Homo sapiens: one gene and its partners. The protein of the gene in region 2 purifies or fractionates together with the protein of the main gene of each other region. This does not show direct contact. Each region holds a gene or a part of one and is shown on either strand. Other genes may lie near its edges. The genes, in order: PBX1, FAM222A and MEIS2.

Region 1 (3,652 bases), on a different chromosome or scaffold from region 2:
ATTGTAAACACTGATGTCTACAGAAAAAGAGGTAAACTGGAGGAGGAAGGACACTTTTGGGTGTATTTCAGGATCACTGCATATCTAGTTTCACTTTGAAATTTATGTTTTTCTTGACATAACTTTCACTATTCATAGGAATCAGTCATAATTATGGTTGCTTTTTGATTTATGGGATAGGAAAAGAAGAAAAAAGGTAAGGAGATTTTTTTTCTCAGATAACTGCACAAGCTGAAAGAAAAGGGAAAAAGATGAAGATAATTTCAGAGGACTTTTGAAGAAGAAATACCTGAGGTCCAATTATATGTAAAAAAAATATGAGCTGAAGGGGGTAAAGAGGGGACATGTTGTGGGAATGATACCCTTCTAAATGACAACAATGGAACTGGTAGGAAGGTGCTAGGTCAGTTCAGGGACTTCCTGCATTGTCCAACAGACAATGATCTGGACAATGTATAAAATGAGTGTTATCATGAATGAACTAATTACTCAACAGTCATGGACTAAGGGCCTAATACGCGTTAGGCACTAGGGATGTATAGATAACAGACACAGAATGAGACATGAAATACAGAAAGAATAGTAGGTTTTATGGGAAGAGTTTGATTCACATTTTGAACAAGTTAATTTTGAAGAACCTCTGGGCAGAGCCATGATGAAGTCCATTAGGAAGTAAAATTTATGAGTTTGGTGCTGCAGGGGAGAAGTTCCATTAGGTATTCAAATGGAGGTATTATTTGTAGCTGTGAGCATGGAAAAGATCACTCAGATAAAGCATATAGAACATTGCTTTTCAAAGTTAAGTGTTCATGGGGAAGTTGTTAAAACAAATTTCTATTATAGATTTCACCCTCAAAGATTCTGATTCAGAATTAGGGTGACACTCAAGAATTTATATTTCTAACAGGCTCCCAGGGGATGCTGATGCTGCATTCTGTGGATCACACTTAGAGTAGCTCTGGTATAGAAAAAGGGCTCTTTAGGGATCTGAGGAGATACAGTCAATAGGCGGATTTCAGATGGATTTGGGTGTATGGGCAACATATCTTTGTTTTGGGTCATGGGGGAAATCAATAGCTTTTAGTAGATTTCAAAAGAATTTGTGACTTCAAAAAAAGACAATAATGATACAGCCCAAGAGGTATTCCCTGGCTTTGGGAATTAGGAGAAAGATTTAATAAATCATGTGATCCAACAAACCATGATTAGTAAATGGGGCAACTAAGATCCAAAAAGAAAGAGTGAGTTCCCTAGGATCCCACAGTTGACTCTTGTCAAAAATAGGCTCCTTGCTTAATGCTCCTTCTATGACATCATATTATACTGTCTTCCATTGGACTTGTTTAGCAATGGTAGCTTAGTTGCTTTGGGGAGAGACAGATGTGATGGGGAAGAAAGAATGGCATGACTTTGGCATGGACAGAGGAAAGGGAAAGGTGACACAATATGTAAATAAGGATTTTAATGGACACACTATTTGTACCTTGAGTTTCCATAATGAAGGAAGTGAAGGTTGCGGGAACAGATCAGGATTTTAACTTGTATCCAGCTATACTACAAATTACCTCCAGGAGAATTCCTTTTACCTTCAACAGGAAGTTGAAATTCTGAATTCCACACTTGGAATTCAGACAGTAGTAATTTAATTATATTTTAAAAGCAGAAGGTTCCATGATAAAATTCAGTGATTTGATATTTGCTGCATATTTGTGGTCCATACCTAGAAGCATTCCTCAAACATGTAGCAAGTATCAAAAAGCATTAATTCCCTTTTTTGTGGAAAAGGGGTTTAGATTTGGATAAGAATGGTGACAGCCCTAGAAAAAACTAGGCTACTTGAGTTTGACCGCTGACGTTCCCGTTTCCCAGAACTGTCAAGACTAAAAATGACCTCCAGCTGGGTCAAAGCACCTAAGGAAGGCCCAGGTTAAAAAGGAGTCAATTCATTCTGCTTTATCTGAAAGAATGTTTTCAAGGATATTTGCTGCTGTAAAATCATCTTAGTTTGTTGGGAAGGCTTGGACAGTCCCTTCATTGTCAATACTTTTGTGGAGCTCTATATTCTGACTGGACCTAATTCTGTACAGCTAAACACAGGTTGATGGGATCAGCACCCTGCAGGGATTAACAGAAGTCAGGATTCAATTCAAGGAGGTACAGATGCTTAGTTTATATAAAAGAGCATCTACTTCATTTGAAAAATGGTAAGTGAAATTTCTCGCTACAGTAGCCTTCACTACTCCCTCCCCTCCCCAGTTTTAATGGAAATATCAGTACATTTAATTCTCCTGCATGTGACAAAATTCTAAGAAAAACCTTCTCCGATAGATTTCAGAATTATCACTATGGTTCTCAATTAGAAACCAGTGGTGGTATTTGAGGTTCAGACTGAATAAGAAGTTTGGGTGGATCTTTTGAGTGGACAAAATACACGTACACATAATTATTGCCTACTTCTCTGCTTCATATTCGTGTTGAAAACTCTAGGCCTATAAAAATTTTATGTCATGTATCTTTCCAAGTCATCAGACACCACCTGTTATGGTTATTGCTCTTTGGGGGAAGGGGGCATTCAGTGACATTTTGTTCACCATTCCAATGTAATCGCAGTGACATGTTAAAATTCCTACACTCCCATCAGTTATAGAGTCAGCACATCAAGAGGAGACATTTAAGTTCTTTCATTTAAAAGGCTATATAACAACTAGTTCCATTCACTGACTCTTAAAGTTCCTGGGTTGGGCAAAAAATGGCTAAGGAATTGACTGAATTTGAAAAAACAGCATGAGGAATGCAGATAACTTTCCTAGTACACTTTAGACACCTCACCCATTTGAAGCAAAGGAGTGCTCGATGGGAAGAACCCTAATCCTGTTTTTACATTGTACTCTACTTATTCTTCTCTTCCTTCTGCTGGTTCTTCTCAAGTTTTGCCAAGTACTTACCTAGAAACTCACTTATACGCATACACATCAAGTGCTTACCTTGATATTTTAAGGCTATAGCTGATGGAACTTGCAAGGCATGAATGTCCAGTAAAGCAAGACCTCTAAGAGCCTGCCCCGGAGGCCCCGCCATGGCCAGGCTACAGGCTGAGGCTTTTGAGGTGCTGCTTACCTGGGAGACTGTGATGCCACACTTCTTGGCTAACTCCTCTTTGGCTTCCTCACTGGGGTAAGGGTTGCTGAGATGGGAATAGAAATATTCATTCAGGATTTCTGTCGCTTGCTTGTTGAAATTCCGTCTCTTCCGCCTTTGTAAAGAGAAAGGAAATAATAACAAAAAGGCTCACACCAAATAAATATAAAATGGGAGAGAATAAATCTACTTCTGGGAGAAGACAAATTTTTGAGCAAAAGGTGAATTTGGAGCAGATTTACCAAAAGGGGCTGGATGCCAAAACCAACGCTAAAAGCATTTGCTCAATACTTCATTGTGTACCATCTGGGCACCGAACAGAAGAGTGGTCACAGATATTTTTGCAGAGTAGTGAGGAGTATAAAGTTTCAAAATTCGGGCCATCTTGGTTTGTTTTTTTGAGATGGAGTTTCACTCTGTCACCCAGGCTGGAGTGCAGTGGTGTGATCTTGGCTCACTGGAACCTCCACCTCCTGGGTTCAAGTGATTCTCCTGTCTCAGCCTCTTGAGTAGC
Region 2 (3,652 bases):
TTCACAAACACAGGCAGTTGGAGGCCCTCTGCCGAGTATTTACACTTCCACAGCCAAGGCAGAGGGAAAGGCTGTCAGAATTGGGCAATTCCTTCTGTTCCCTTCCCTCATCTCCCTGGGCTTGGCACTCAGCGTGCCAGACGATGAGCAGGAGGGAGTGCCAGCTTTCTCAGCATCTCCCTATATGCCAGGCGTTTTACATGATCTCAGTTACTCCTTGGAGTGGCTCATACGCTGTGGCCCATTTTATAGCTAATGAAACTGAGGCTTAAACAGAGGAAGTGATGGGCTACAGGTGATCAGCCAGGCAGCTGCAGAGGTTCGGTCCTGAATTGCCCTCCTGGCTCCAGAGTCCTTGTGTCTTACCACCTCCTCCCATGGGGTTTGGGGGACACTCCTACTTATTGGACAGGGGTCCCTGCAGGCATCAGAGGCTATCAGCCATGGAGGGGGAGTCTGGCCCCACCAAGATGCTTTGTCCACACCAAAAGGCAGATTTGAATCCTCTCTTCCTATGACCTACAGGTCAGCGTTGAGTAGATTAACAACTTCCGCCCGGCCTTGTGGTCTGTCTGGTCCCCTCACCCCCAGGACTCCTTTCTCCAGCACTAGGGGAAAGAAGGTGTAGCTTGAAACTCGCTCCTTGTCACCTGCCCTTCTGGGCTTGCTTGGAGGGAGGCGGTGAAGCTGCCCCTGGCCGCCCCAGGGACCTTCTTGGGATGTAGATGGAGCAAGGGCAAACTAGTAGATGAGGTTCCTGACCCAGCCTGAGGGTCAAAAAGCCCTAGAGGAGAGGTGGCACATGAGTCATGAAGAGGACAAATAGGAATGTGCCAGACAGGAGTGAGAAGACTGTTCTGGGTGGCCGGAGTGGCCCTGGAGCAGCCAGTGATGTGTGTGGGCCCTCGTGCCTGATGGGGAAAGGGGCAGCCGTGAGTGGCTGTGTCCTGGAGCCTTAGGTGGATAGGGAAGGTTTAAGCAGGGCAGAGGATCCATTGATCTCCTTTGACAAGGACAGTAACCCTGGACATCTCTTCCCGTAAGCGTGGAAGTGGCCACCTCGGTTCTGGGGGCAGTCTCCTCTCTTAAGGTTGGCCCCACCCCCACTAATCCTTCTCACTTATCTAATTCCTGTAAGCTCGTCCATCCCCTGTCCCTTCTGAGCCTTAGGGCTGCTCTGGACTAAACTGGGACTGGGCTGGACTGCTGAACCCCCTTGATGAGAAACTTGAGGCGCCCTGGTGATGGGCAGTGGCTCCTGATTAGGTGCCAGGCTCTGGCGTGGGTTGGGCCTGGATCGTACTCTCAGCCCGCCGCTTGCAGGCTGTGTGACCTCGGGTGAGTACCTTTGCCTCTCTGAGCCCCAGTTTACTCATCTGTGAGAAGGACCATAGCACTCACTGTGCAGGGTCTGGTGAGGATTCAGGGAGGGCCTAGCACAGCACACAGTATACAGTAAGCACTCAAACGCATGTTGTCATGGCTACTGTTACCTCCTCCTCAGAACGGAGCCTTGAATGACTCAGTCCCTTGGAGCCAAAGGTTGAAGACCCCATTTGCAGGGAGAGGCCCGAACTCTACCAGCTATCTCTGCCAGGGGCTTCTCTGTCCACTGAGGCCCCCACCCACCCACCCACATGGTGAGCACCGGTGGCTCTTTTCTGAGCTTCTGCGGGGGCTGGGACTTGGCCGGGGGTCCCTCCCCAACCTCCCTCCAGCCCCCTCTGCCTTCCCATCCCTCACAAACCGGAGGAAGGCAGCGAAGCAGCTCATATTCATGAACCGTAATTCAATCAGGCGGCGATTCCTCTGGGCTCGGGGCGGGGGTGAGAACGAGGAGGCGCGCACAAAAGGGCCGCTTTATTACCTCCCGCGGGCCGGGAATTGCTGCTCTCTCCCAGCAGCGGCCGGAGCCGCTTTATTGTGTTAACCCATTTGCGTGTCAAGAGCTATTGGGCGCTTTCTCTGCCTGTGCGTTGCGGGCCGCGGGAGGAGGGCTGCGGTGCCGGCCGGTCACCTCCGCGGGCGCCGCCCGCCGCCCTGATTGGTTGCTAAGTGATTTGCATCCAAGGTAATCACTTTTATCTCAGAAGGATGTCGACTATAATTATAAGCTACTGACATCTTTTGAAATCTGCCTAATGACTATTTTAGTCTGCACGGGCTGGGTGTAGGGAGGGAGATTCTGGAAAGGGTGGAGGCTGGGAAGAGGGATGGATTCCTTCCACCTGGACCCCTGATTGCTTAGTTGAGAAATATCTGAGTACCTACTGCATGCATCAAACAAAAGATGGGGTCTCTGTGATGGGGGGCTTGCATCCCTGTGGGCAGAGTTAGTGCCACTTCAGAGATGGGGAAACGGAGACCCTGGGGAAGGGGCGACCTGCCCAGACCACACAGCCAATGTGCAGCCACCATCTGGGTCTCTCTGACCCCAAATTCATGCCCTGACCACTCCAGTGGTCACAGTCAGGAATCATGTAATCATGCCTGGATACAGGTCACCAGACTAGTACCTTCCAGAGTTTACGTCATAACCCTAAGAAATGCACATGCTGGTACCACCCCCATTTTGCTGAGAAGCAGGGGCCCAGAGAAGGTATTATACTTTGCTGCCCGAGGTCACACAGCCAGGGAGTGGCAGAAGTATGAGGTTCATTGGCAGCCAGAGATGGGAAGGCAGAGGCGGGGTTCCAGCTTCCCACTCCTCTTCCCACCCACTCGTGGTTCCATTCGGTAAAACCAGGCTTTAGGTAAAGACTGAGCAAGGACACCCTGTCGCCCGTGTCCCAGTGGTCAAGTGATAAGAAATCAGATGGCCCACAGCCTCTAGAGGGAGTAAGATGAGTCTGCAGTTAACTGGAATTCTAGACAGGGCTGGAGCAGGGCTGGAGGAGGGAAAACCTGCAGCTGGTCCTGGAGGGCTTCCTGACAAAGCGGGCTGTGCTCTGTGCCCTGAGGACTGAGTGGCTCTCCCCAGCATGGAGTAAATGGGGGTGTCTCTGGCAGAGGGAGTTTGGAGACCCGGGAGCATGACCAGGAAGGGCAGGGGGAGCTTATAAGATGGTGGAGGTGAAAGGGAGATTAGGAGGGTGTGCAGGGGGCATCGGGTGCTGAGCTAAGGGTGCTGTGAGGCCCTGAGGAAGAGGGAAGCCAGTGAAAGCATCTGAGAGGCAGGGGCCAGCTAAGATCCCAGTGCCTTAGAGGCCAACAGAGAGCTTGGGAGTCGCAGACCTGGGCTGAAACCCGGTGAGAGAGAGCACCTGCACTCTCACTGGCTGTGTCCTCAGAGAAATTATTTTACCCCTCTGTGCCTCAGTTTCCTCTTGTTCAGGAGAGTCTCAACAGCTTTCTCATGGGCTTGTGGGTGGGGTGAGCTTGCATGTGCATAGTGCTTGCAGGGGGCTTAGCTGAGCCCCTCAGAGCTGGGTGGGCTGGGCTTGAATACAGGCCTGGGCCAGTCCTGGCCCCACAGCAAGCCAGCATCCCAGCCGCAGCAGCTGTTTGGGGCCCTGGGGGCCCCTGCTATTGTGCAGAGGGCACAGGGGACAAAGGCCTGGGAGGTCAGGGGGTGAGGCCGAGACTAGCTGTGAACAGGCTCCCGGGGATGGGGACTTAATGACGCAGAACTTAATGACCCAGAGTCTGTGGG
Region 3 (3,652 bases), on a different chromosome or scaffold from region 2:
TTTGCATTAGGTGCAGGCAGAGTGAATCATCCTTGCTGGGTGTCTTTACATTGCTCTGCAGCTCAATTACTTTCCCCTGGAAACATACGAAACCCCTAGCTTATAAAATCACAAACGTTAATGCTCTCCCCAGCTCCAATGTTGTAATGTTTTGATGTTATTATCAAATCAGATTTAATTCCCTGGACTCCCACTCTGAACCCAGTTATTTCCAGTCCTGTTTCTTTCTCTCTCTATTGTAACTTGTTGCTCAGAGAAGTCTCTGGAGAATAATATCTGCTGCAACAATTACTCTATTGTTTCCTTGCCTTCAACTATTACACCCTTTAATTAGAGTTAGTTTGGAAGACATCACACTGTTGCTCTTTGCAAATGTAACCTTGCAACCTGGTATTTTTCCTTTCTAAAAATGAAACAAAACAACAACAACAACAACATGAGCTAAACCCTCCACCATGACCTTCGTTCTAGGTCCACGAACTGTGCGATAACTTCTGCCACCGATACATTAGCTGTTTGAAGGGGAAAATGCCCATCGACCTCGTCATTGATGAAAGAGACGGCAGCTCCAAGTCAGATCATGAAGAACTTTCAGGCTCCTCCACAAATCTCGCTGACCATGTAAGTCTGCTAGCCTTTAGCAATCTTTTAAGGCCACTGGGCAAAGCATTATTTTAACCTTGTTTTAACATCTAGCTCCACTGATTTAGTTTTCTTTTTAAATGACTCCGTCTCTTTTGGGGTCTTTTCTTCTCTTTCTTGCTTTCTCTGCCATACCCTTCATTTTCATTTCTCCTTTCTTGGACCCCCTCCTATTTATGTTGAGAGCCAAAAAACCAGAGTTGATAGAGTGATTTGTGCTCTTAATGTGTAAAGTTTTCTGGATTTGGTGACTTGGGTGTTCGCAAATTCTGTTTGATATAGTCACCACTGTGTTTTCTGCTTTCTTAATTTTGTGTAATCAGTGCAGCAGGGATAGAAAGAAGCAAGACAGTTAGCTGGACTGGTCTGGAGAGAGAGGACTGAATGAAAGAGAATTGAGTGAGTGCTGATTTCCTAGTATGTCACAGAGATGACAATTCTGAGAATTATTGGCAATCTTGCACTGCATTCGAAATAAAAGGGGTGAACAAACACATTACAATTCTCAGGGCTTTTGCTATAGAAACTTATTGTCAGAATAGGGACTTATTGCCAAATGCCTGAAGCATCTTCATAATAAAAGACAGTAACCTTGATGAACCAATTATTAACAATGTATTACAGAAAGCTGAAGGGAATTATGATTGAGTAACCATAGGTTAGTGGTTGAATTTTAACACTTTAACAGTTGGTGAATGAGGATGGAGAGTATAGTAAGAAATGACTGTGTATGTCAGGCCAGGAAAGGAGATTTCTTTCTATTCTCTCTGTTTCTAATCCTATTTTGGAACCAATCTAGTGAGTCTGATGCTAAAAAAAAAAAAAAAAAAAAAAAAAAAAAAAAAAAAAAAAAAAAAAAAAAAGCATATGTAGTGAGACTGAAAATTTGAAAAAGAAGCAAAGAGAAGAAAGATTGCAGCTGGTAGGAAAGGCAAGAGTGGCGAGGTTAAAGAGTGGGTGTGAACAGCAGTTTTATTTATAGGAACTCAAGCCTGGAAATGGGGGACAGGGTGTCTATAGATTACATTCAGTTGAACTCACAGCCTAAATAATATAAGCTGTAGTTTAATAACTTTGTGGCCGAAATATTAATTTGACACTCCGTGTGAGTTAAACAGGCATTAAGGCTTGAAGGCAGTTTGTCCCTACCTCCCATCCCAATTCCTGACTGGTATGAGAAATGAATTGGGATGCCTTAGTATAAACCTTCTATGAGGTTCTTCTCTCCCCTGCTCCAGACAAAAGTTTTGAAAATATGCAGTCATAGATTTTCATAATTAACCTTTGCACTTGTATGGGAAGCCAGCCTAAGAACAAAAGTTAGAAAAAGTCTAGAAAAGAAAACCGCAGTCTGGGATATCCAGTTCTGTGACAGAATAAATACTGCGGTGTTGAAGGCTCCTATTCTTATCTCTTTACCCTTACCTTTTTCCATCATGGTGAGGGAATCTTTGGTGATCTCCTTTGTATATTGAGTGAATGTAATGAAATCAAAAGGATGCAGCAGTGGTTATGGAAAGTTTATTTGCTGATCTGTGGCTCCACAGTGTGTTGTGGTCCATGAGGCATGACACTACCTAAGAAATATTTACATTTGTTGTTTTTTGTGTGTTTATTTTCATTGTTTTCTGTTTCTATATTTATATTTATTCACATTATTGGGAGACTGGGGAGGGATCTATTTACATGGTTTGTAAAATGAGAGGTTCACAGTTCTCGGAGCCAAAAGCTTTTCTCATGATATTTCTAGGAGTACCTACTACTTAGTTTTCTAAAACAGTTTCTTGGCAACTCTTTTTCCAGTGGATGTATACAGCTAGACCATGTTGATGTTTACATAGAAAAGATAAGATAAAATAGGCTGTTTAAAGTATTGGCTGATAGACAATATCAATTTATGAGACTATTGTAATATTTAAATATCCACTCAAGAAGGAAGTTGTACCTAAGAGGATAGTGCTTTAATAATTTATCAATCATCATCTTTGGATAAAAGAGTCAACTGTAACATTTGTTGCTCTCCTTTCAGGCCCCCAGTCAAGTAAATATGACAACTGATTTATTTTGAACCCATGAGGGCTTGCCACTTCATTGGGTGTCATAATTTAAAGCCTTTTATTTCCTAGAGATCTGAACTATAACATTTTTACTTTAGCCCCCTGCTATTTGTTTTGAAAGGAAGCAATAATTTGTTCCACCAGCACACCAAGTAGAAAACGGAGAGATTTGCCACAGACTTGTATTTTATGCAGGGACATGAGAGAAAACCTTGGAGAGTTTTCACCATTTTTGAGACTTTTGTACCATAGGTGTATTGATTGTATTCATGTCCAGGCTTCCCCCTTCAAAGCAAATCCTCTTATGCTTTTCAGCCTCTTCTACAAAGTTGCCTTCCTTCAACCCCCTAGCCAAACACAAAGTAAAAATAACAAAGAACCACTACCTGAAAAGTGGTGTGAGTGGGACATTTTCAGCATGTAAATGTGCCCAATTTGAATCTTCAGGTTTATTTTTCATTTGCTTTGATATGCATATTTAATACATTGCCCCAGGCTGGATCTCATTTGGTGAACACTGGTGCAGGGGTGATGATGAGCCACTTCAGAAAGGCCCAGACAGCGCGTTGTTTTCTTGTTTTATCTGTTGGCCCACTATTCTGATCTGAGCTTCCTCTTGGTTTTATTTGCACATGAAATGCTGAGAGCATTTCAACTTATTGGCTATGAATAATGACAGCTAAAAAAGAAGTGTAGTTTAATTTGTTGTATGCCAAGGTTTCTCTTGTGGAGGTGACAGTTTGTGACAGCTGTTTGACACCCCCAAAACACATACACCTCTACTCTTATTAAGTGGTATCCAGCTTCATTGTGTGTGTGTGTGCATACTCGTGTGTGTGCATGTTTAAGGAAGGAACATGCAAGGAGAGAGAGAAAAGCAGAGAGAAATGCATCAGAAGCAAAATATTAGGTACCAATATAGTTTCAGTATTCTTTAAAAGAATTTGAAAATG

What was found.
Region 1: the proteins of FAM222A (region 2) and PBX1 purify together in Homo sapiens (affinity purification with mass spectrometry; 2 studies listed by BioGRID and IntAct, with this or other methods). This does not show direct contact.
Region 3: the proteins of FAM222A (region 2) and MEIS2 purify together in Homo sapiens (affinity purification with mass spectrometry; 2 studies listed by BioGRID and IntAct, with this or other methods). This does not show direct contact.

Annotation. Positions count from the first base shown.
Region 1 is NC_000001.11:164,807,143-164,810,794, reverse strand, and holds part of PBX1 (pre-B-cell leukemia transcription factor 1), read right to left. Parts: intron 3,254-3,652; coding exon 3,118-3,253; intron 1-3,117. UniProt on the Homo sapiens protein: Transcription factor which binds the DNA sequence 5'-TGATTGAT-3' as part of a heterodimer with HOX proteins such as HOXA1, HOXA5, HOXB7 and HOXB8. Binds to the DNA sequence 5'-TGATTGAC-3' in complex with a nuclear factor which is not a class I HOX protein.
Region 2 is NC_000012.12:109,716,680-109,720,331, forward strand, and holds part of FAM222A (protein FAM222A), read left to right. Parts: intron 1-3,652.
Region 3 is NC_000015.10:37,090,550-37,094,201, reverse strand, and holds part of MEIS2 (homeobox protein Meis2), read left to right. Parts: intron 1-471; coding exon 472-621; intron 622-3,652. UniProt on the Homo sapiens protein: Involved in transcriptional regulation. Binds to HOX or PBX proteins to form dimers, or to a DNA-bound dimer of PBX and HOX proteins and thought to have a role in stabilization of the homeoprotein-DNA complex.